Regions from separate parts of the Homo sapiens genome. Here regions 2, 3 and 4 are each reported to be linked to region 1. The links are microRNA targets in miRTarBase. Many come from high-throughput screens and were not tested one by one. Region 1 holds a microRNA gene; each other region holds the end of a gene's coding sequence.

Region 1 (6,405 bases):
CCAGTCCCACCCAGAAAGAGGCCCTTTCAGCCAGTAGCCCATACCTGTTCTCATAGATGTCCTGGATCTCATACACCTTCTGGTCAATGACATCACTGGAGACACGACTGGCCTGTAGCTCATACACTTTCTGGTCAATCAAATCTGAGACAGTTTTGTGGAAATACTGGATGAAGTTTTTGATCACCTCAGGGATCACCTGATAGGTTTGCTGTTCATACTGACGTTCATAAGCAAGGTCCTGCTTTGGATCTCCTGGAGGTTGGATACAACAAATACAGAGTATGCTCAAACCCACATATATGATAGAACGAAATGGCAAGACCACCCCAGAAACTAAACTCAGGTCTGCGTAAAATTCCCTTTTGAATACTCAGAGATACAAACATCTCAAGTCACTCCCAATCTCGTTGTCCCTGTTTCTTCAAAAATATTACCATGACTTAAAGTTATTTTTCACTTATTATCTGTTTTGCACCCTTCTCCCAAGTCTAGGAAGTCAGGAATCTCGTCTGTCTTGTACTCAGACATACCCTCAGGGCCTAGAAAAGTGTGCGTTGGAGGGGAGAGAGGCAAGACTGTTGGAAAGTAAGTGGTAACAGGTACTTAATATTTCTTGAATGAATAACTGTCACCTTTTAAATATATGACTGTGCCAAGTTACTACTAATAAACCTCTCTGCTATATTTTCTATTCTTTAGGAGACATTAACATACAGAACTGCTGTAAGGATTAAACAAAATATTTCATACAAAGTACTTAGAACAATGGATAACACTGACTACTAAGTCAAGTCACTATAACGTTTCAGGAAACCTCAGACACCTCCTAAAAAGATTTCATTCGGGCTTGGTTTGAATTACTTAAATTTTTCACATCAAGATTTTCTTCCTTGGGGCAGGCGCGGTGGCTCACGCCTGTAATCCCAGCACTTTGGGAGGTTGGGGCGGGTGGATCACCTGAGGTCAGGAGTTCAAGACCAGCCTGGACAACACGGCGAAACCTCGTCTCTATTAAAAAAATTTAAAAATTAGCTGGGAATGGTGGTGGGCGCCTGTAATCCCAGCTACTCAGGAGGCTGAGACAAGAGAACTACTGCTTGAACGAGGGACGCGGAGGTTGCAGTGAGCCGAGATCGCACCACTGCACTCCAGCCTGGGGGACAGAGGGAAACTCCATCTCAAAAACAAAAACAAAAACAAAAACAAAAAAGCTTTTCTTATTTGGCTAATAGTTTACACAAGAAAACCATAGCCAGGTAAGTAATCCTTCTCTTCCAAGACTGAGGTGGACTATGATAAAAAGCCTGGTTTATTAGGCTTTATAAAACCCCTCGCACTGGCAGCTAATGACTGACTCCAAACCTGGACCATCAAAGAGCAATTTTTGATGCCTGTCAGAGCTGGTTCTAAGACATTCCAAAGGAACTGATCCCTACGAGTACTCAGCCAGCCTAACCCGTGGTCTCACCTGTGTGCATATCATAGTCGCTGGGATAAGCGTAGGGGTCATAAGCCGCCTAGAAGGAAAGAGACACAGTCAAGGACAGCCGCCAAGTCGTGAATTCAAAACGCTCATCCTAGAGTCTAGATGCCAAGCAGAGAGCTAAGGATACAGAGGCGAATAAGACACTGTGCCTGCCTTTGAGGAACTCACACGCCTTAGAGAAAAGGGACAGTAAACAGACAATGACAATACAACATTACGGGTGCAATGAGGTGGAGCAAAGGACAAGAGGCTGTGGGAATCAGCGAGATTTGACCAGACGGAGCCTAGACCAAAAAAACTCAGGTGCAGAAACACAGAAACGTCTAACAGGCCTTAGTCTCCGGTCTTAGAAAGGGGAAGGACAAGCCAATCGAACACGCGAAGTGGGCGGGCAGAGCCAGGGTTGTCTAGGGACCGGGAACTGTGGGAGCAGCCTGAGGGCCGGGCGGGAGGTCGGCCGGAGCTGGCCGCGACCCGGAAGCTGCCTCGCGCCGGGACCCACATCCAGTGGTCCCAGAGATCACCCCGTCGTGGAGCCCACCGCGCCCTTACGGCCACCTTACCTCAGACTCATAATCATCAGCGGGATAAGACATGGCTGCCTCGCTTGCGAGCACCGCCGGAAAGAGCGAAATGAGCGGCCCGCGCCTGCGTCCTGAGGCCGGAAGTTCAGCCCCACTCGGGCCTGCCGGGAAACCGGAAGCCTTTCCGAGGCCTCTGGCCATCTGAGACAGCCATATCCAGAAGGAAGAGGAGCCGCGTTCCGTGGCTCACACCTGTAACCCCACCAGTTTGGGAGGCCGAGGCGGGCGGATCACCTGAGGCTGAGGCCGGGGGTTTGAGACCAGCCTGACCAATATGGAGAAACCCCGTCTCTACTAAAAATACAAAATTAGCCGGGAGTGGTGGCGCATGCCTGTAATTCCAGCTACTCGGGAGGCTGAGGCAGGAGAGTCGCTTGAACCCGGGAGGCGGAGGTTGCGGTGAGCCGAGATCGCGCCATTGCACTCTAGCCTGGGCAACAAGAGGGAAAACTCCGTCTAAAAAGAATAAGAGGGTTACAAGTAGCCTGAATTTTCCTCTCTTCAAATAGGGACTTCTCAAAGAAGGTGAATCTATAATAGTGGTGTAGATTCAGATATAAGGACACGTATTTGGCGTAAAGGAGAGGCAAAGTTAGAGGAACCAGAAAGAATGCTACACAAAAGATGGCCGGCTTCTCGCGTGAAGGAAGATTCGGATACGGGGGCCTGATGGATTTAGTTGTAGGCGGTTTGCCTGCAGCGAGTAAATTATTCAAACGTTCGGACTTCACAAGACTAAACTTACTGGGGATAAAAATTGAGATTTGGCCGGGCGCGATGGCTCACGCCTGTAATCCCTACACTTTGGGAGGCCGAGGCGGGTGGATGATCTGAGATCAGGAGTTCGAGACCAGCCTGGCCGAAATGGCGAAACCCCGTCTCTATTAAAAATACAAAAATTAGCCGGGAGTGGTAGCGTCCGCCTGTAATCCCAGCTACTCAGGAGGCTGAAGCAGGAGAATCGGTGGAACCTGAGAGGCAGAGGCTGTAGTGAGCCGAGATCGCGCCACTGCACTCCAGCCTGGGCGACAGAGCAAGACTCCGTCTAAAAAAAAAAAGAAAAAAAAAAATTGAGATTTGGTCCCATGCAGTAAGAGGGAATGGAGAACAGGAGCCACCCAACTTTGGACATTAAAGTTGGAGCAGGCAAAGATGAGGCCAGCTGTGTCGCGAAGCCTGGGACATGGGCAGCTCTTGAGTACACCGGGTTCGAGGCCAGGGGAAACCCTCAAGGTAGAGATGGGGTTATAAAGCAAACCAATAAAAACCGGTGTATGAGTCAAGGAGAGGCCTTAGTTTAGCCATCTGCCCATACACAACACCTAGTGGAAATCCGAGTTCCAGTCCCTACTCCGCCACTGATTTGCTGTGTGACCAGGACTCTCTGGGTCCCTTTGTCACGCCGCCCTCCTTGCTTTTCCCACTGAGGCACGCTCCACCTCTGGGATTTTGCACTCACTGTTATCCAAGTCTAGAATCGAATGCAGTGGCACCCCCACTCCCATTCCCTTCCCCATCGGTATCTGCATGGCACCTTCAGGTGTCTGCTCTGATGCCATCCACTCAACATCCTATTGAGAATTGCAATGCCCAGCCCCAACTCCCTATGCTGCGTTCTTGTTTTGTGTTTCTTCCTTGTGCTGTCACCAGAGGTGACACAAATTTGGAAATAATGGAGCTTAAGCTTTACCGACCCTCGATTTGGTTCAGGACCTTCCCTGAACCAAGGAAGAGTCACAGTCTCTTCCTTGGTTCAGGGAGGGTCCCCAACAATGTCCTCATGGTCCTTTGCTTTTGTAAAATTTGTGAAATATTTTTATTGCTGAAACCACCTTTGCAAAAATTGTAACAGTGAGAAAATAATGACAGTGAAAGAGATCTGATCTAACCAACCCTCATCTTCCATTTAATCTTCAGACTGCCCTTAATCATTCCTGGCTCGAACCGAGCTAACTTTGGGAGACATTTAGTTTCTAGTTTAAATAATAACCCTTCTCCGAGGCCTGGCACAGTGGTTCACACCTGTAATCCCAGCACTTTGGGAGGCCAAGGCAGATGGATCACCTGAGGTCAGGAGTTCGAGACCAGCCTGGCCAACATAGTGAAACCCCGTCTCTACTAAAAATATAAAATTAGCCGGGCATGGTGGCATATGCCTGTAGTCCCAGCTACTCGGGAGGCTGAGGCAGGAGAATCACTTGAACCTAGGAGGCGGAGGTTGTGGTGAGCCAAGATTGCACCACTGCACTCCAGCCTGGGCAACAAGAGCAAAACTGCCTCAAAAAAAAAAAGAAAAAAGAAAAGAAATTGGCCGGGCGCGGTGGCTCACGCCTGTAATCCCAGCACTTTGGGAGGCCGAGGCGGGTGGATCATGAGGTCAGGAGATCGAGACCATCCCGGCTAAAATGGTGAAACCCCGTCTCTACTAAAAATACAAAAAATTAGCCGGGCGTAGTGGCGGGCGCCTGTAGTCCCAGCTACTTGGGAGGCTGAGGCAGGAGAATGGCGTGAACCCGGGAGGCGGAGCTTGCAGTGAGCCGAGATCCTGCCACTGCACTCCAGCCTGGGCGACAGAGCGAGACTCCGTCTCAAAAAAAAAAAAAAGAAAAGAAATTACCTGAAATCTTATAGTCCATATATGACAGGAATTTGATACAGGTTGCTCCAATTTGACAACAATTCTCAAAATGTTCATGACATTTGAGAAGGAGTTGTGAAGTCAGAAGATTTTCATGGGGCTGGATGTGGTGGCTCATGCCAGCACTTTGGGAGGCCAAGGTGGGAGGATCACTTGAGCTCAGGAGCTCAAGATCAGCCTGGGCAATATAGTGAGACCCCATCTTAAAAAAAAATTGGGGCCCAGGCACTGTGGCTCACTCCTGTAATCTCAGCATTTTGGGATGTGGAGGCAGGAGGATCCCTTGAGGCGAGGAGTTCAAGACCAGCCTGAACAAAAAAGTGAGACCATGTCTACAAAAAATCAAAAAAATAATTAGCCAGGCACGGTGGTACACATCTGTGGCCCCAGCTACTCAGGAGGCTGAGGTGGGAGGAAAGCTTGAGTGCAGTGAGCTGTGATCACACCACTGCACTCCAGCCTGAGTGACAGTGAGAGATCCTGTCTCAGCACTGTATCCATTATGGGGCAGACGAGGAGAGTACAAATAAACATAGCATTTTTTTCCATATAGTACAATGATAAACCTCACAATGGCGACTGCAAACACTGAAAATTCTGGAAGTGCTTTTCCAATTGTAAGAGAAAGATTACTTTTTTTTTTCTTTTTGAGATGGAGTCTTTCTCTGTCGCCCAGACTGGAGTGCAGTGGTGCGATCTCGGCTCACCGCAAGCTCTGCCTCCTGGGTTCACGCCATTCTCCTGCCTCAGCCTCCTGAGTAGCTGGGACTAAAGGTGCCCACCACCACACCAGGCTAATTTTTTTGTATTTTTAGTAGAGACGGGGTTTCACCATGTTAGCCAGAATGGTCTCAATCTCCTGACCTCGTGATCTGCCTGCCTCAGCCTCCCAAAATGCTGGGATTACAGGCGTGAGCCACAGCGCCAGGCCTTTTTTTTGTTTTTGTTTCTTTCTGAGATGGAGTCTCGCTCTGTCACCCAGGCTGGAGTGCCATGGTGCGATCTCAGCTCACCGCAACCTCTGCCTCCCAGGTTCAAGCTACTCTCCTGCCTCAGTGTCCTGAATAGCTGGGATTACAGGCGTGCGCCACCACACCCAGCTAATTTTTGTATTTTTAGTAGAAACGAGGTTTCATCATGTTGGCCAGGCTTGTCTTGAACTCCCGACCTTGTCATCTGCCCATTTTGGCCTCCCAAAGTGCTGGGATTACAGGCGTGACCCACCGTGCGGAAAGATTACATTTTAACTGGGTTGAGTGGGAGGGTTTATATATGGAAAGAACTTTTGCCAGGACACAAGACCTGGTCCGGTGAGAGCTGGGCAACTGTGAATGAGTCTCTTCCCTCTGCTTTTCAACTCCTCACCTATAAAATAGGGATGGTCCTTCTTGTCTACTTTATAGAAGTGCTTGTGGGGTACGGGATTGTGAGAAGTTTTATGAAAACGTGCACCCATGAAATGTTGCTTGAGGAACACTTATTTGTTTCCTGGTCTTCTCCCATTGGATTGTGAGCATCTCAGGGGCACCAAGTCTGATCCTGTGTCCAGGACCTAGCAGTTACCTGGCTCAGTGACTGGCTGTCGAACTAAACTATTGCTCTAATGTAATCACTTTGTATTACAAATCTTTGTAGATCAGTCATCTACGTCGGGGTTACCTAGAGAACTCTGACTAAAGGAAATCCATTGCATT
Region 2 (4,000 bases), not on the chromosome of region 1:
GCTGAGTTAAGGATCCATAGGTAGAACTTTTCAGCTGCCTTCTCCACACAGCAAGCCCAGGCAGAGCCGGGCACTGGCTCCCCTGGTGTTTTCTTGCGTTGCTAGGCCGCCCCATCTGTCGGGCTGTAAAACAAGTGTCTCCGTCCTGCAGGTTACTGGAAGAGCTCCTGAACAAGTTCAAGAGTAGCATGCACTTGCAGCTCACCTGTTTCCAAGCAGCTTCTTCAACCATGATGAAAACATAAATATCTGCCACATAAAAGAAGTCCAGGAAAATAACACGTAATAAGACTGTTCACTCTCTAAGTACCCTAAAGGTATTTGGTGTATTAAACATTGGGTTTGCCATTTTTCTCTTTTTTCTTCCTCTGACTTCGAAAATTGTTGGTATACATTTCAACCAAAATGACCTCATTTGAAATGCCCAGGAAGTATTTGTTTTGCCATTCTTACTAGATCAGATCCTGTATGACTTTAAAATACATTTTAAAATATATTTTGCATCTCAGCAGAAGGTTGAGTGCTGCAGGAAGAGCTGCTTCTGCAGGGAGTTTTCTGGAATGGCGTGGCACATATTGAAGCATTTCTCAGTGTCCCGTTCACGGAAGCGCAGGCAGCTCCCACGACACACGGAGAGACTGACTGATACGAGATTTGGAAAGCTATGTAGACATCTTTGGAGCTCTTACTGTCCTAAACTGTACAGCTGTGCTTAAAACCCTCATTTCATATAAATGGCCTTAAGTTTTCTAATTCAAGCGGGTTTTTGGAAAAATTTATGGTCTCCATTAAAATACATATTACAACTGGGGTAGATTATTTGTGGTCCAGGTGTCTGTGATTTAACTTTGCGTTTTGCTATCTGATTTTTATTTTTCACAGGGCTAAGCATGAGCTTTCATTCTCACTCACTCTTAATTTGTCGTGCGTCACTACACATGCACGTGTTGCAGTCCCTGAGGCCCTGTGTGTTATCTGTGATGGAGTGTGAATGTGTAACGGGCACTGTGTTACACTCTGAGGTGTTGGCGGGGCGGTCGCAGACTTCAGGGTCCCCTAACGGAAAGGCCAGGCTCCGCGTGGACGGCCAACTCCCTGCCCGCTCCTTCAGCAGGTGACTGTCTCTGCCACTTCTTACCTGCTGAAGGATCTTGCTCAGTAGCTGGAACAATGCTGCTGTCACACAGTCTCTTCTCTGAAACTTCAGGATGCTCCTTGGTCACCAGGCAATGGGAGCTGTAGACCAGCCGCATGCACTTGCCCCACATTCACTGCTGACTGGCTTCACTGGAATAGGTTCAGGTCACCGGGACTTCTCTCAGAGTCAGCGGCCCACCCAACTCCCTCATACCGTCGCATCTGAAAATTTTCAGAGAGGAATTCTCTTTGTAGTCGGCTTGTCAGGGTTTTCAAGTTTTTCTATGGTTATTTTTAAATCTCTTTTTTTAAATGCTAAAATTAATGTCCTCATTAATGCAAGTAATTTTAGAGCACAGTGTAGCCATGTACAGTTTCCATTATTTAAAATAAATAAATGTGTTGGTTCATTTGGTGTATGGGGGGACATCATGGTAACTGGAAATGAAAGTTTAATCTTTCACAAATGTGCTTGATAAAGCTGTTAAGAATTGTCTTTCCTAAGTATGTTAACTGTTGTATCTAACTCAACTGTGAGCTAAGTTTAAAAACTGCAATCATGAATGTTTGTGATATTTTAAATATCTACTACAGCACATTCAGCCAATAAAGAATCTGCCTTTAATGTAAGTTGTAATTTACTTGACATTTTTCCCTAAGTGTCTTTATTTCAACATTTTCATATTTCTACTGTTAACACCCAAAATACTTACATTCTGGTTAACCCTGTATTGGTAAACACATTGTCAGAAACCATCTGTCAGGTCCTGCTAATTCTGTTTGCTGGGGACTTACCATGTGCGAGGCACACCATGAAGTGCCTCGTTGAATCCTCACAACAGCCTTATGATACATGTGGGCTAGCTTACCGCCACGTCCATTTAGCAGAGGAAGGAATCAGGGCTTAGAGAGAGGTTGGTGACTTCCGTAAGACTGCAAGGCAGTAAGTAGCAGGACTCATGTTCACACTCTGGCTCTGTATGTCCTTGACTTCACTACTGCTCAGCTCTTCCTTCCAGCGGAATATGCTTTCTGACATCCATCCACCTGGGTCACAGCTCAGAGAAAGTTCATCAATTCCAGAGGCTAATAAACAGTAGCAACACGGAAACCGGTAGTGCTTTTATGGCTCAGAGTGGAAGGTAAAGGCCTAAAAACCCCATACCCAAGTGAGGGAGTTCAAGGACTACTATTCCAACAAGTCAGGGGGGACTTCTTGGAAGAAAGGGGGATTTCAAGAGCTACTTGAGTTACAGAACCCTGGTTTAGTGGGTAAGAGGAGATGAATATGAAATAAGTTAGATGAAAGCCGAGAGAGAAACCAGGACCTGGAGCAAGTTAACGAGGCAGCTGAGAAAACAAATTAGGGAGGTTCAAGGTACTTCAGTGCTCCAGTGGCATTTCATTTCCAGCACACCCATGTTCTTTGTGGGTCACAGCATGGCTTCATGTGAGTTAGCTGAGCTGGCCTCACTTGAATGGGAAAGAGCTATTAGAAATCACTTGGTTTTTTACTAAGACTTTCTTTATCAGTGTACCATGAAAGAGCATATTCTAGAAATGATTTGGGCATTGCAAAACAAGCATCATTGCCTTAGGCTGAGCACACTGACTCATTCTCCTGTCTCTTGTCATCTTTGCATGTAGATTTTTTTAAAGGGAAGAAATAGAAGAGATTATATTTTTATTCTGGATTTGGTACAAGGTGGTGGTGTGTATTTCTGTTTTGATCACGTGCTATGGGATATTCTGTTAGTTTCATAAGCGTGTTGTGTAATGTTTTCAGAAAAGTTACAAATTTTAACTAGTTTTTAAATCAAGATTAGGTTTCTAAAAGTCAAATATATTTTATGTAATATTCATAAAATAATTATGCATAGACTAAACTTGCATACATTTTTGTCACTGAACATTTATCTGTTGGTTCTGTTGCAAAGATTTTCATATAGATCTGTGAACTGCTCTGAAAGATATATTTAATATATCACTCCTCAATTAGAGCAGCAGCCATAATTATTTTAGCTTTGCTTTAAACACAGTTGCATATTACTCTATACTAGGGCCATTATGCTTTTTGTGTGCTGATCTCATCTCATTTCTGCTCCCCCAGAGGAGGATTTATTACATTGAGGTTTATTACGTGTATTACTGGAAAGCCTTTCTGTACCTGGCCAGGTTAGAAATATATAGCAATAAACATCTTACGGACAAGACCTGGGTCTTTGGGTAACTTGTTTGCAGTTTGGCTAATGAAAGGCAGTAGGATATCAGAGTGTCTTTCTCCTGTCTAGGCACAGAAAATCCTAGACAAAGTGGGCAGTGAAGCTTGTCTTGTGCCTTCAACAGTGTTTTACCATGACTGGAAGCCGTTGGTTTTCTTCTTGTGGTCACTGTTGATATTTTCATGGTTGTTATCATTATCATCTCGTCACATGTTAAAAAAAGATTCTCGTACCACCTTCCTACAACCCCTCTAGCCAGACACAAATCCCTGAGAACCAAGACCACTTTATCCACAATGAAGTAAAATAAAATACGTTAGCAACAATTTAATAGGAGATATCAGCAGACATAGAAACAATTTTTAAAATGAAAAATTTAGAACCAAAAAATATAATTTCTGAAATAAAGCAAAAATACTGACTGGGCTTAAATAGCAGTGAGGATAACTGAGGAAAGAGTAAAGGAACTTGAAAATAGACAGATCAACGAGACAAAGTTAACAAGGATACCCAGGAATTGAACTCAGCTCTGCACCAAGTGGACCTAATAGACATCTACAGAACTCTCCACCCCAAATCAACAGAATATACATTCTTTTCAGCACCACACCACACCTATTCCAAAACTGACCACATACTTG
Region 3 (4,000 bases), not on the chromosome of region 1:
GGCTGGTCTTGATCTCCTGACCTCAGGTAATCCACCTGCCTTGGTAAGTGTTGGGATTACAAGCATGAGCCACTGTGCCCGGCCCACTTGCTTTTATTTAATAACTTGCTAAAAAATAAAAACAAAAAACATTAGCACTTACATGTGGCTCCATGATGTCTTTCTGGTAATTCTGGAAACTTTTTGGGTTATAGAATTTGAAGAATCTATTTAGAGCTATAGAACTCCTCTTAATCCTCCCCAAGTTGTACTCAACAGATTTATTCCTTGCTCCCTAAAACCTATCCTTAGAAATTGCAAGTTGAGAATTCACCCCACCACTGCCCACTGTTCCAAAAAGCTTTACTGAATCTCATTAATGAAAAATAATGTAAAACTCTCCATAGGAGGCATTAACATACTTGTTTCTTCCAAACCTTCTGATTTCCACTAAAATTTGTAACCAAAATATATTAGGAAAAAGTAATTAAGCTTTAATGCTATTGCCTGGCCCAGTCTAACTATGATCTTTTAATTGTGGAGACATGGCAGTTCCCTGAAAGACCACAGCCTTTGGAGACTAGCAAACCTGGCTTGATCACTGGTTGATAGTTATTTTGCTGTATTAATTTGCCTTACTTTTCTGAGTCTGCATTCTCATCTGTAAAATGGGTGTATGACTTATGATAGGGAGCTATTTGAAAAACAAAACATCTGACACAGAAAAGGCTGAATTAAAACCTTTAGAGACCCAAAGCAGCAGGGCTATTGTGCCCAAATCACTCAAGGTATTGGTAGGAAAGAACACAAACTGAGGAAGGTTTAATAAAGGACTATTTACAGAGACATGGACAGAGTGCAGGAAAATCAATGAAGAATAATGGCGTAATCCAGGGCTGGTAACTAAGTCCTTTTTTTTTTTTTTTTTTTTTTTTTTGAGACAGTCTCGCTCTGTTGCCCAGGCTGGAGTGCAGTGGCACGATCTCAGCTCACTGCAGCCTCTGCCTCCCAGGCTCAAGCAATTCTTGTGCCTCAGCCTCTCAAGTAGCTGGTATTACAGACATGCATCACCATGCTTGGCCAATTTTTGTATTTTTAGTAGAAACAGGGGTTTCATCATGTTGACCAGGCTGGTCTGAAACTCCTGACCTCAGGTGATCTGTCTACCTCAGCCTCCCAAAGTGCTGGGATTACAGGTGTGAGTGACCGCACCCAGCTTGAGTCTTCTTTTTTTTTTTTGGAGACGGAGTTTCACTCTTGTTGCCCAGGCTGGAGTGCAGTGGCACGGTCTTGGCTCACTGCAACCTCTGCCTCCTGGGTTCTGGCAATTCTCCTGCCTCAGCCTCCCGAGTAGCTGGGATTACAGGCATGCGCCACCATGCCCAGCTAATTTTTGTATTTTTAGTAGAGACGGGGTTTCACCATGTTGGCCAGGCTGGTCTTGAATTCTTGACCTCAGGTGATCTACCCGTCTCGGCCTCCCAAAGTGCTGGGATTACAAGCGTGAGCCACCGCACCCAGCTCTCGAGTTCTCCTTTCTTTCTATTCCTAGATGTGAAGGAGCAAAGAGAAGGAGCCAGAAGCTAGAGGGGGCTGCTTGGTAAGAGCTGTGGTCTTTGCTAAAGGGACACAGACAACCCATGTGACCTGGCAATGAGAAAGCCAGAGTACTCTGACCATCTCTTCCTTATATCTTCTCATCTTCTTTGGATATTAATAATTGGATAAACAGAAGCTGAAGTCAGAGGGCAAGGGAGCCATTCATGCTGCAGTCCATGTGGGTCAGCACCCGCTGGGGTCCAGAGTGGGATGAAGAGGGGTTCTGAAAGGCAAATGGAAGACATCTAGTATAACCTCTCCCTGAACGTAATTCAAACTACTTAACTATTATTACAGACAAAAATCACATGTATGCTGAAAGTAAAATAACCTGTTTCCAGAATTTCTGATTGCAAAATTCTGAGTTCTTCAATTAAACCTGCATTTTTCTCAGTCTTTTTGGTGCCCCTGCTTCACTGGTGCCTTAAGAACATTTGAGAGCCTAAGGGCAGCCCTGAGCATGGTGCCTGAACTAGGGTGCCTCAAAACTAGGGACTGAGGAAGTCTCAAGTTCATTCCTGAATGCTGACTATAAGAGTCTCTGAGAGAGTTTTGAGAATGTAGAACTGATTTAGAATGAATCTCAGGATTTTTCTGTTAAGATCTATAAATTAGGAATTAAGGAACTGGATTTTTTTTGAATTTGAAAAATCCTATGATAGTATAACTTTGCATAAGCCTACTGAATGATAGGAAAGTTTTTAGTTTCTTATCAAAGAAAGAGAATAAAGTGAATCAGGACATCAGTTTCACATTGACATTTTTATTAACGCCAACTGTTTTTTAATTATTTTTTTAAAACAATAGCACAAAAATGTTTCAAGGAAGCAGTCTCACAATCTGATGACCTTCTGAAATACCGTTAAGCCACACCAAATATGAATTTCTGTTAATAACACAAAATATTTTTTTAAGAAAAAAAGAAAAAAAAGGTAGGGAAAGAAGAAGGGAATGAGATTTAGATTTAAAACTCATTGGATTAAATAGGTGAGGCTTATTAGGATATACTGTTGAAGCAAACAGTGGCACACACAGGCTTACAGTCTTTGTTTTTTAAACCAGTTACCACTAATGTATTAAGCCCTGCAGCAGTTACCACTGACTTCTCGCACGCATAAAATGAACCGGGAGAAGCCAGTGTTGATACTGTTGTGAAGAGGTTCAAGAGCTGGCTTTTCAGACAACTAAGACCATTTTTAGCAGAATAACTCCTTCAGAAAGGCCTGGCTGAAGATCTTTTTATTTCTATTGTCTCACCTATATAAATTTCAGGGTTCTTATAAGTCATCTTTAAAAAGAAAAAAATAATGTATATCAGTTTCTCTTATTTAATGTGGCTATGAAAGATGTTTCCTTATTATTTCTTCATCTCTAAGAAGGACACCAGGGAATGGGGGTTGGGGGTGGAACTAAAGGGAGGAAAAAAACCAGAACAGGGTAGGTTTTTGTTTTTTGCTTTTTGTTTTTTTTTGGCCAAGGGGTCGGTCACACAGAAGGGAAGGCAAGGAGGAAAACTAAACTACAATCCTTGGTTCAGATTGAGTTATGCAGGAATATATCTTCCTGATCAGTCCCCGTGCCAAAAAAAAAAAAAGCCACTTGGAATTATGCACTGACTCCAACTATGTGATACCAGCTATCAGCCTTTTGTGTTTAACCATTCCCAGAAATGGACACCACCCTTGGCTTTATAGGCTCCTTGCAGAACCCACTTCACAAAAATGCTCTTCACCAAGAAGCCTCTAGTTTCCTTTTGGTAGGTTATAAAAACAGAACATCTGTCATTAACAGTAGAGTGTTAAATACTTTTAACCACTGACAAGGCTTCAGAAAGTTTCACAGTTTCGTTATGCTCTATTTTATTACTATCATATTTACATTTTTATTTTTTATTTATTTTTTGCTGAATTGCTGATTTTCCTTTTTCAATAGAATTTAATTCTGGAGTGTGAGCAGGAACCAGTTAACTACATTCATTGTCCAACCCCCACTGGTTTGAAAGAAGACTCCAAATTCTTGGCATATGAATCAGCTGTTCGGTAGCTCCACCTTATCCCTGCAGCGAAGCAGCAGAACCGCCAATGGCGGCACCTCAGGATTCACACTGTGGGTGGTGAGGCCTTCCGCTGAAGGAGGTACTGGTGGATGCTCTCAGCATCTCGCTTTAGCCAGGCAGCATTCAGCAGAATATTTTCACAACACTGCTGGATGGTACGCTCAGCTGAAGGAGCTGGGTGACTCTCGAAGAAAGCCTGGTATAAAACAACCCAGAATGCAGGATCATTACTAGCAATAAGAAGTTAATATTACAGGTTATGAAAAAATACCCACTGGTCTATATGAAGGATGCATAATCTTCAGGCATGAGAATTTACCACTGCCACCCTCAGGCTAAAAGAAAACAAGCAACTCCTTGGACCTG
Region 4 (6,405 bases), not on the chromosome of region 1:
GTCGTGATTGCCTCTATAAAATTTTCTGGTATATGGCTATGGCATAGTAACAACTAGCTTGCCTTGTACTTGGCTAAAATGTGAATCTTTTAAAAAATGCAACTCAGGCCGGGCACAGTGGCTCACGCTTGTAATCTCAGCACTTTGGGAGGCCAAGGCGGGTGGATCACTTGAGGTCAGGAGTTTAAGACCAGCCTGGCCAACATGGTGAAACCCCGTCTCTACTAAAAACACAAAAATTAGCCGGGTGTGGTGGTGCACGTCTGTAGTCCCAGCTACTTAGGAGGCTGAGGCAGGAGAATCGCTTGAACCCAGGAGGTGGAGCTGAGATTGCGCCACTGCACTCCAGCCTGGATAACAGAGTGAGACTCTGTCTCAAAAAAAAAGGCAATTCATAAATTATTTTTCAGTTCCAGTCAGTATTTTCGTCTCACTCTCAAATAGGTAAATTCTCACTTTAAAATCTTTCTTGAAAGTGTCATGTTGGCCTCAGCTGCAGTTTGCCTTACACATTTCCGTCTTATTGCCCCTTTCAACAACCTCTGCTGATATTATACCCTTAGTGAATCTTCACAAAATAATTTACCTCTGCAATCAACAACTTGACTCCTCAGTTGCTGCATTACGTTTATTCTCTAGGTAAGCCTTTTTTTTTTTTTTTTTTAAAGAATGCTGGTATCATGGGATAAAGCGCTCAAGAGAGTTTCCTATTTTTCTTTGGCATGAATGTAGTGCACTGGCGTTGAGAGGCAGAGACCAAAAGGTGTGTTGATACATGCATCCTCAGAAGCTTGCATTATTCATTTTGGGATATTATCAGTGAACTAAAGGTAAAACATATTAAATCATAGATGAGCATAAAATCTATACCTCCCAAAAGCAGAGAAATGGATTGAGGCTGAGAAAAACATTCTGAGGACTTCAACCTGTATGTATGAAAACACAGACCCCGGTCTGTGTGGCCTCTTTGATTAGGGTGGAGAGCATCAGACCTTCACCAAAACCTTCTACAATATCCCTAAAACTTGGCAAAGTTCTATTATTAACATAACATAAACTCTGTCCCTGCAAACTGTTACACTTGGCAAATACTTATTTCTGGAAACCCTTAAGTGGAGACCAGTCTTGTGCTACACGGAGGAAGTATCCTAAAACATAAAAGTCTAATAAAACCTAAAAGGAAAACGAACCATGCCCTATTTGTCACTGTCTCATATTTTTAGCAGAACACACACAGTAATGATAAAGAGGTTATTCTCCAAAACATCAGATTCTTAGTATTTTTTCAAAAAAAGTTTGAGAAAATTAAGCTGAGTGACAGTCTAGGAAAGTCCCTGAGGAATGGGTTTTAAAGTGAAAAGACAACAGAGATGAGCATGTAACAACATACACAAACACGCAGGTTCTTCATTTTTTAAAAGGTGTGGTTGAAGCTACTAGAATGGTTAAAAAATAAATAAATAAATAAATAAATAAATAATTTTCCCGACTATTTTGGTGTCCAGGTTTTCAAAATTTCTCAGCAAAATAGCTGGCACGAATACCTTGGAAAGATCTTGAAGCCTAGCCCTGGCCATTTTCCTGTTAGCTTCTGGAGGGACCTTCCTCCCGCTCCTCTTCAGGCTCCCTCACATGTTCCAGTGTTTGGTGCCTCTGCTTCCAGTTGCTTCCACTCTGACTTCTGAGACTTCTCAGTGGCTGATGGCTAATACTTTTAGTTATGCTTGCTTGAGGAAAAGAAATGAGTCACTCATTTAAACATGTGCGTAAGCAGGCTGCTACTTACTGGTTTTTACCTTTTAAAATTAAGTGCCCTTCTGATAGACTAAAGTATTATTCAGACTTACCACACATCAGCACTCATATTGTGTACTAGTTAGAAGTCCAGAATCACTAGCTAAATTGTACTCTCCACTTAATAATCATGACCTTGAATGTCAGTTTCTCTGAGGTCCTGTCTCTCAGTATGTATACTGGGAACCAAAATATTACGTACCATAAAGATTATTGTTGGAAACGGTTGAGAAGAGACAAATGTTATGCAAATATATTGTGACAGCATCTTCATTTTCAAGAAACACTGAATTCTGAACATGGTTTGGCTGGTGCTAACGTTAATGATATTAATTGCTTTGGATCAACAGAGATCTGCCTAAAATAAATAGGCTATTGGGCAGTTTCCAATAACCATGAGGCTAAATCTCTCCAGCCGAAGGACTTGCTTCTGCAGGAGACGAAAGGCTTCTATTCCAATTTAATAATAAAAAGCATGCATGATTCATTAAGAATATAGGCAAGGCTTTATGTTATATTTATTTATTTTCCAGCTTGTACAAACTGGATGTAGAAGCATAAACATAGTACATTTCTACCATCTTCAACAAAAATATAACCAATATGTACAATTATTGTATTAAAAATACAAAAGGGATACAGACTCCACCAATGTCTTTCTAAAAGACATACAGGTACAAGTAGTATCAAAAGTATGAGGAAATCACCAGTTAATTGTACATTCTGCACTTGACATCACAGAGCGAACTGAGATTAGCAGTCCTATGTTCTACAATTACTTAATGCTTAGATAACATTTGTGCAACTTGTGGTAGAGCTAGATTTCTGTCTTTCTATATGCACATGAGGTCCATAGCCTATATAATAAAACTGGCAAATAATGCATATTACATGTAAAATTACAAATGCATAATTGACAATGTAATAAGCAAGTAGACAAATGCCATGATACAGAAGAGAATTATTAAATAAAGCACTGACATTGTTTGATACAGTGAAAAAACACTGCAATTCCACTTTTAAAATTTGAAGCTATTTACGTTTATCTACTGATCAATATGATCAGCTGAATTTAATGGAAAAAAAATCCAAGACCAGCAGTTCCTCACATTTGAGTACTACTCAGATTGGCAGCCTTCACTTTTCCGGAGTCTGTGCAAAACAACACAAAAATAGAGTGGAGGGGTCATTTCAGTCATTATAGGGTTAATAGCAGCTGTGAGCAGATGGTTGCTACACTTAGGCCTTCTCTATATGCAGCGTCCATAAAGCCACTTGGAGGTTAGTCTTTGGTGACTAACCTGCCTTGCAAAGGCTGGCATGTCTAACCAGGTTTTTGATCTTTTATCACGTTTAAAGGCTTGTTTATTCCCTAATGCCAATTCAATAAAGGGAGGCTGTCTTGAAAGAGCAGTATAAACAGCTGGCATTAGCTCCAACATCCCAAGCTGCTTTCACTGCAATGCTATCCAGTTATAAATGTTTCTCTTAAAAAAAAACAAAAAAACAAAAAACAAAACCTACACCTCTAAATTAACAAAAATCAAAGAAATATAACTTAAAAATGGGGTTTGCCATCCATCTCAATGGAGCAGGACACATCCGCCAATGACACCGTCCTGCCTCCATAAGGCTCAGACAGGACACAAGGGTCCTAGTTCCCTCCCCTGGCCATGTGCAAACAGTTTTACAGAAGAACCCCATCCACTGGGGAAGGAGCAGATGAGGTGTCTTGGTATTAATTGGCTAACATTTCATACTTCCAGGATAGGGCACTTCGCGGGTGAGACCAGAAGGACATGGGAAGCCAGGGTCACAAGCCAGGTCTTCCCGTCTTCTTGGTGTGGCCACACCCTGTCCGGCATATTTGGTTTTTCAGAAACCAGGCTGGCAACCCTACTTAAGGTTTAAAATAATACTGTAATCATTAAATGGATATATATTTACTCTCTGAACAAAATCTTTAAACTCATTTTTTTTTTTTAAAAGGAGGACATTGTAAACAAGTGGACAAGCACTGTACTCAAAGGATTTCATTGTTTTTCTTTGTCTTCCTTGGTGGGTTAAAGGCCCCAAGTAGTTCAATGGCTAGCTTTTCTCATTATCCCAATGAGATCAAGTGCTAGGACTGGATTGAAATCTAAAAGGAAGATTAAAAAAAATCCTTCCAGGCATTGAGAAGTGCAGCCAGAGTGAATCATCTTGTTGTGATGATCTTGGAATTTGGAATGATACTGTGTGATGTGGCAGGCAGCAACAGTGGGAGCTCGAAGATTGCTGCACTGTGCATTTCAAGCAACAAAGTCTGAAAAGTGCCAGGGCAATTTCTTCACAGTATTTCACATGCAAAGGGGAAAGGAAGAAGGGGAGAAGAAGCCCCATGCTGCTTTTAAGGCAGGGAAGGAGGCAAACTGGTCCACCGTCCTCAGAATGTGAGTTCCAAGGCTCCAATGCTCAGGACGTCTTCTTGTGCTCTCCTTTCAGGTGGCTCGCTCTGCTTCCAGAAAAGTCTGTGCCTCAAACAGCAGAAACTTGTTCATCTTCTGCAAATACAGCAGGGAAGAAAAAGAAATCAATGAGCAAGCAAGTAATTTCTTGTGCTATAGAGAATATATTCACTGATGTGCTAAATAAAACTATCATAGTTATTCTTTTTAGTATAGCTCACTTAGAATCCTTGTCTTTTTTTCCTAAACAATGACGAACAACAAAAAGGTTAAAATGTATGCAATACATATCTTTACATATATACACACAATATTAAAAAGATATGCATTATATATTTTTGTTCAGAAAGTTGTTAAATTCATTTTAAAAAGTTGTAAAATAGCATGTGCCATTTAAAAAAAATATACGATCAGATACACATAAAAAGTCTAGAATATATAACAACATTTTAATAGTGGCTATCTGCAAGTGACAGGATTTTAAGTAATTTTCATTTGTAATGTTTTTCTATTTATTTAATTTAATTTAACTTTTTTGAGACAGGGTGTGGGTTTGCCATCCACAGTGCAGTGTTCTCGGCTCACTGCAACCTCCGCCTCCCGGGCTCAAGCGATTCTCCTGCCTCGGCCTCCCAATCTCCCAGTCACGTGTTGCTTTTTTCTATGATTGTGTAATCAAACATGTTAAACTGAAAACTTTAAAGAAGATGGGAGGCCATGTTCTCCTTCCTCATTCTCAATTCAGCATGGTCAGATAGATTTGTAGAAAGAACGCACAAAGAGTTATAAAGAATGTGGGTTCCTTCCTTCCTTCCCTTTCTCCCTCCCCTTCTCTCTCTCTTTCTTTTAGAGACCGGGTCTTGCTCTGCTACCTAGGCTACGGTGCAGTGGCACAATCATGGGTCACCACAGCCCTGAACTCCTGGGCTCAAGTGATCCTTCCACTTCAGCCTCCATAGTAGCTAGGACTATTGGCACACGCCACCACGCCTGGGTCATTTGAAAAATATTTTTATGGAGACAGGTCTCACTATGTTGCCCAGGCTTGTCTCGAACTCCTGGCCTCAAGCAATCCTCCCACCTCAGCCTCCCAAAGTGCTGGGATTACAGGCATGAGCCATCAGGCTGGCTGATAATGTATCTTTCTTTATCAGACTTTCATTTCCAAATGAGTCCCAATTCATTAAAAGCGCAAATATAATGTTTCCACAGAAAACTTTAACCATCCACCTTTGAGAATCCTACATGCTTCTAAAATTCTTGACAACAGCACAAACTTGTGAAATTTTCATTTTCTTTTCCTTTTTTTGAGACAGAGTCTCACTCTGTCACCCAGGCTGGAGTGCAGTGACATGTTGTTGGCTCACTGCAACCTCTGCCTTCCGGGCTCAAGTGGTTCTCCTGCCTCAGCCTCCCGAGCAGCTGGGATTACAGGTGCCTGCCACCATACCCGGCTAATTTTTGTATTTTTAGTAGAGACAGGGTTTCACTACTTTGGCCAGGCTGGTCTCAAACTCCTGAGCTCAAGTAATCTGCCCTCCTCAGCCTCCCAAAGTGCTGGGATTACAGGTGTAAGCCATCGCACCTGGCCTATTCTTTTTCTTAAAATAGGGTCACAGAAGTACTTCAATTTTAACGAGAATTAGAAAAGAAATCAAGTCATATAAACACTGTATTTTAAGTGACTCCCTCCATAATCTTTGGGATTTTTTAAGCCATTTAGGGAAACACACATACACAGACACACAGAAAGCAATCAAATTTTAGTGAGAATTGGAGAAGAAAACCAGTTATATACACACTGTATTTTAAGTGACTCCCTCCATAATCTTTGGCATTTTTAAAGCCATTTAAGGAAACACACACACACACACAAAAGAAAGCAGTCAACAGCTGTAACCCTAAATTTGGAACTCTGAATGTAGTGTACTTTGTGTAGTATATGGTTAGACATAGCTGACTGCAGTGTTAAGAGAACAGAAATGCCTTGGGAAGCAGCACAAGTGAACACATCTAACTTGGAGGTTTTAGGAATATTTATGTGCATATACCATCCTCCTCGGTGGAAAACCCTTGGGACTGATAGGGGGCGAGGCGCGGGTCAGACTCGTTCGGTTTATGCCACTGAGGTTTGTTCACAGGCCTGCTGCTGGTGGGATGCCCA

Evidence for each region. The annotated mature microRNA hsa-miR-659-3p reads CUUGGUUCAGGGAGGGUCCCCA and lies in region 1 at 3,821-3,842, shown strand. An mRNA with a match to its seed (bases 2 to 7 or 8) in the 3' UTR can be bound and repressed. Matches are read on the target gene's strand: a 7mer-m8 pairs with bases 2 to 8, a 7mer-A1 pairs with bases 2 to 7 and ends in A, and an 8mer does both.
Region 2: miRTarBase lists EXOC2 as a target of hsa-miR-659-3p. Seed matches in the 3' UTR shown: 7mer-A1 at 399-405.
Region 3: the mRNA of NPEPPS is a reported target of hsa-miR-659-3p. Seed matches in the 3' UTR shown: 7mer-m8 at 3,107-3,113.
Region 4: miRTarBase lists RAPGEF2 as a target of hsa-miR-659-3p. Seed matches in the 3' UTR shown: 7mer-A1 at 3,661-3,667.

Annotation. Positions count from the first base shown.
Region 1 is chr22:37,845,130-37,851,534 of GRCh38, reverse strand. MIR659 (microRNA 659) reads left to right here and starts at 3,761; the gene lies at 3,761-3,857. It overlaps EIF3L (eukaryotic translation initiation factor 3 subunit L), which reads right to left and starts at 2,116. Exons shown (of 13, transcript NM_016091.4): 1 at 2,053-2,116; 2 at 1,472-1,520; 3 at 45-255. The coding sequence starts at 2,085. It also overlaps a transcript of ANKRD54 not described here. RefSeq lists enhancers at 1,430-1,951, 1,952-2,474, 2,475-2,997.
Region 2 is chr6:482,916-486,915 of GRCh38, reverse strand. It overlaps EXOC2 (exocyst complex component 2), which reads left to right. Exons shown (of 28, transcript NM_018303.6): 28 at 152-1,762. The coding sequence ends at 245. Among named protein-coding and RNA genes, the nearest start is that of IRF4, 93 kb to the right of the region's middle.
Region 3 is chr17:47,621,598-47,625,597 of GRCh38, reverse strand. NPEPPS (aminopeptidase puromycin sensitive) reads right to left here. Exons shown (of 23, transcript NM_006310.4): 23 at 2,322-3,830. The coding sequence ends at 3,678. It overlaps KPNB1-DT (KPNB1 divergent transcript), which reads left to right. Exons shown (of 4, transcript NR_171700.1): 4 at 3,511-4,000. Among named protein-coding and RNA genes, the nearest start is that of KPNB1-DT, 26 kb to the left of the region's middle.
Region 4 is chr4:159,356,046-159,362,450 of GRCh38, reverse strand. RAPGEF2 (Rap guanine nucleotide exchange factor 2) reads right to left here. Exons shown (of 30, transcript NM_001394067.2): 29 at 6,293-6,405; 30 at 2,278-4,337. The coding sequence ends at 4,312. Among named protein-coding and RNA genes, the nearest start is that of MIR3688-1, 230 kb to the right of the region's middle.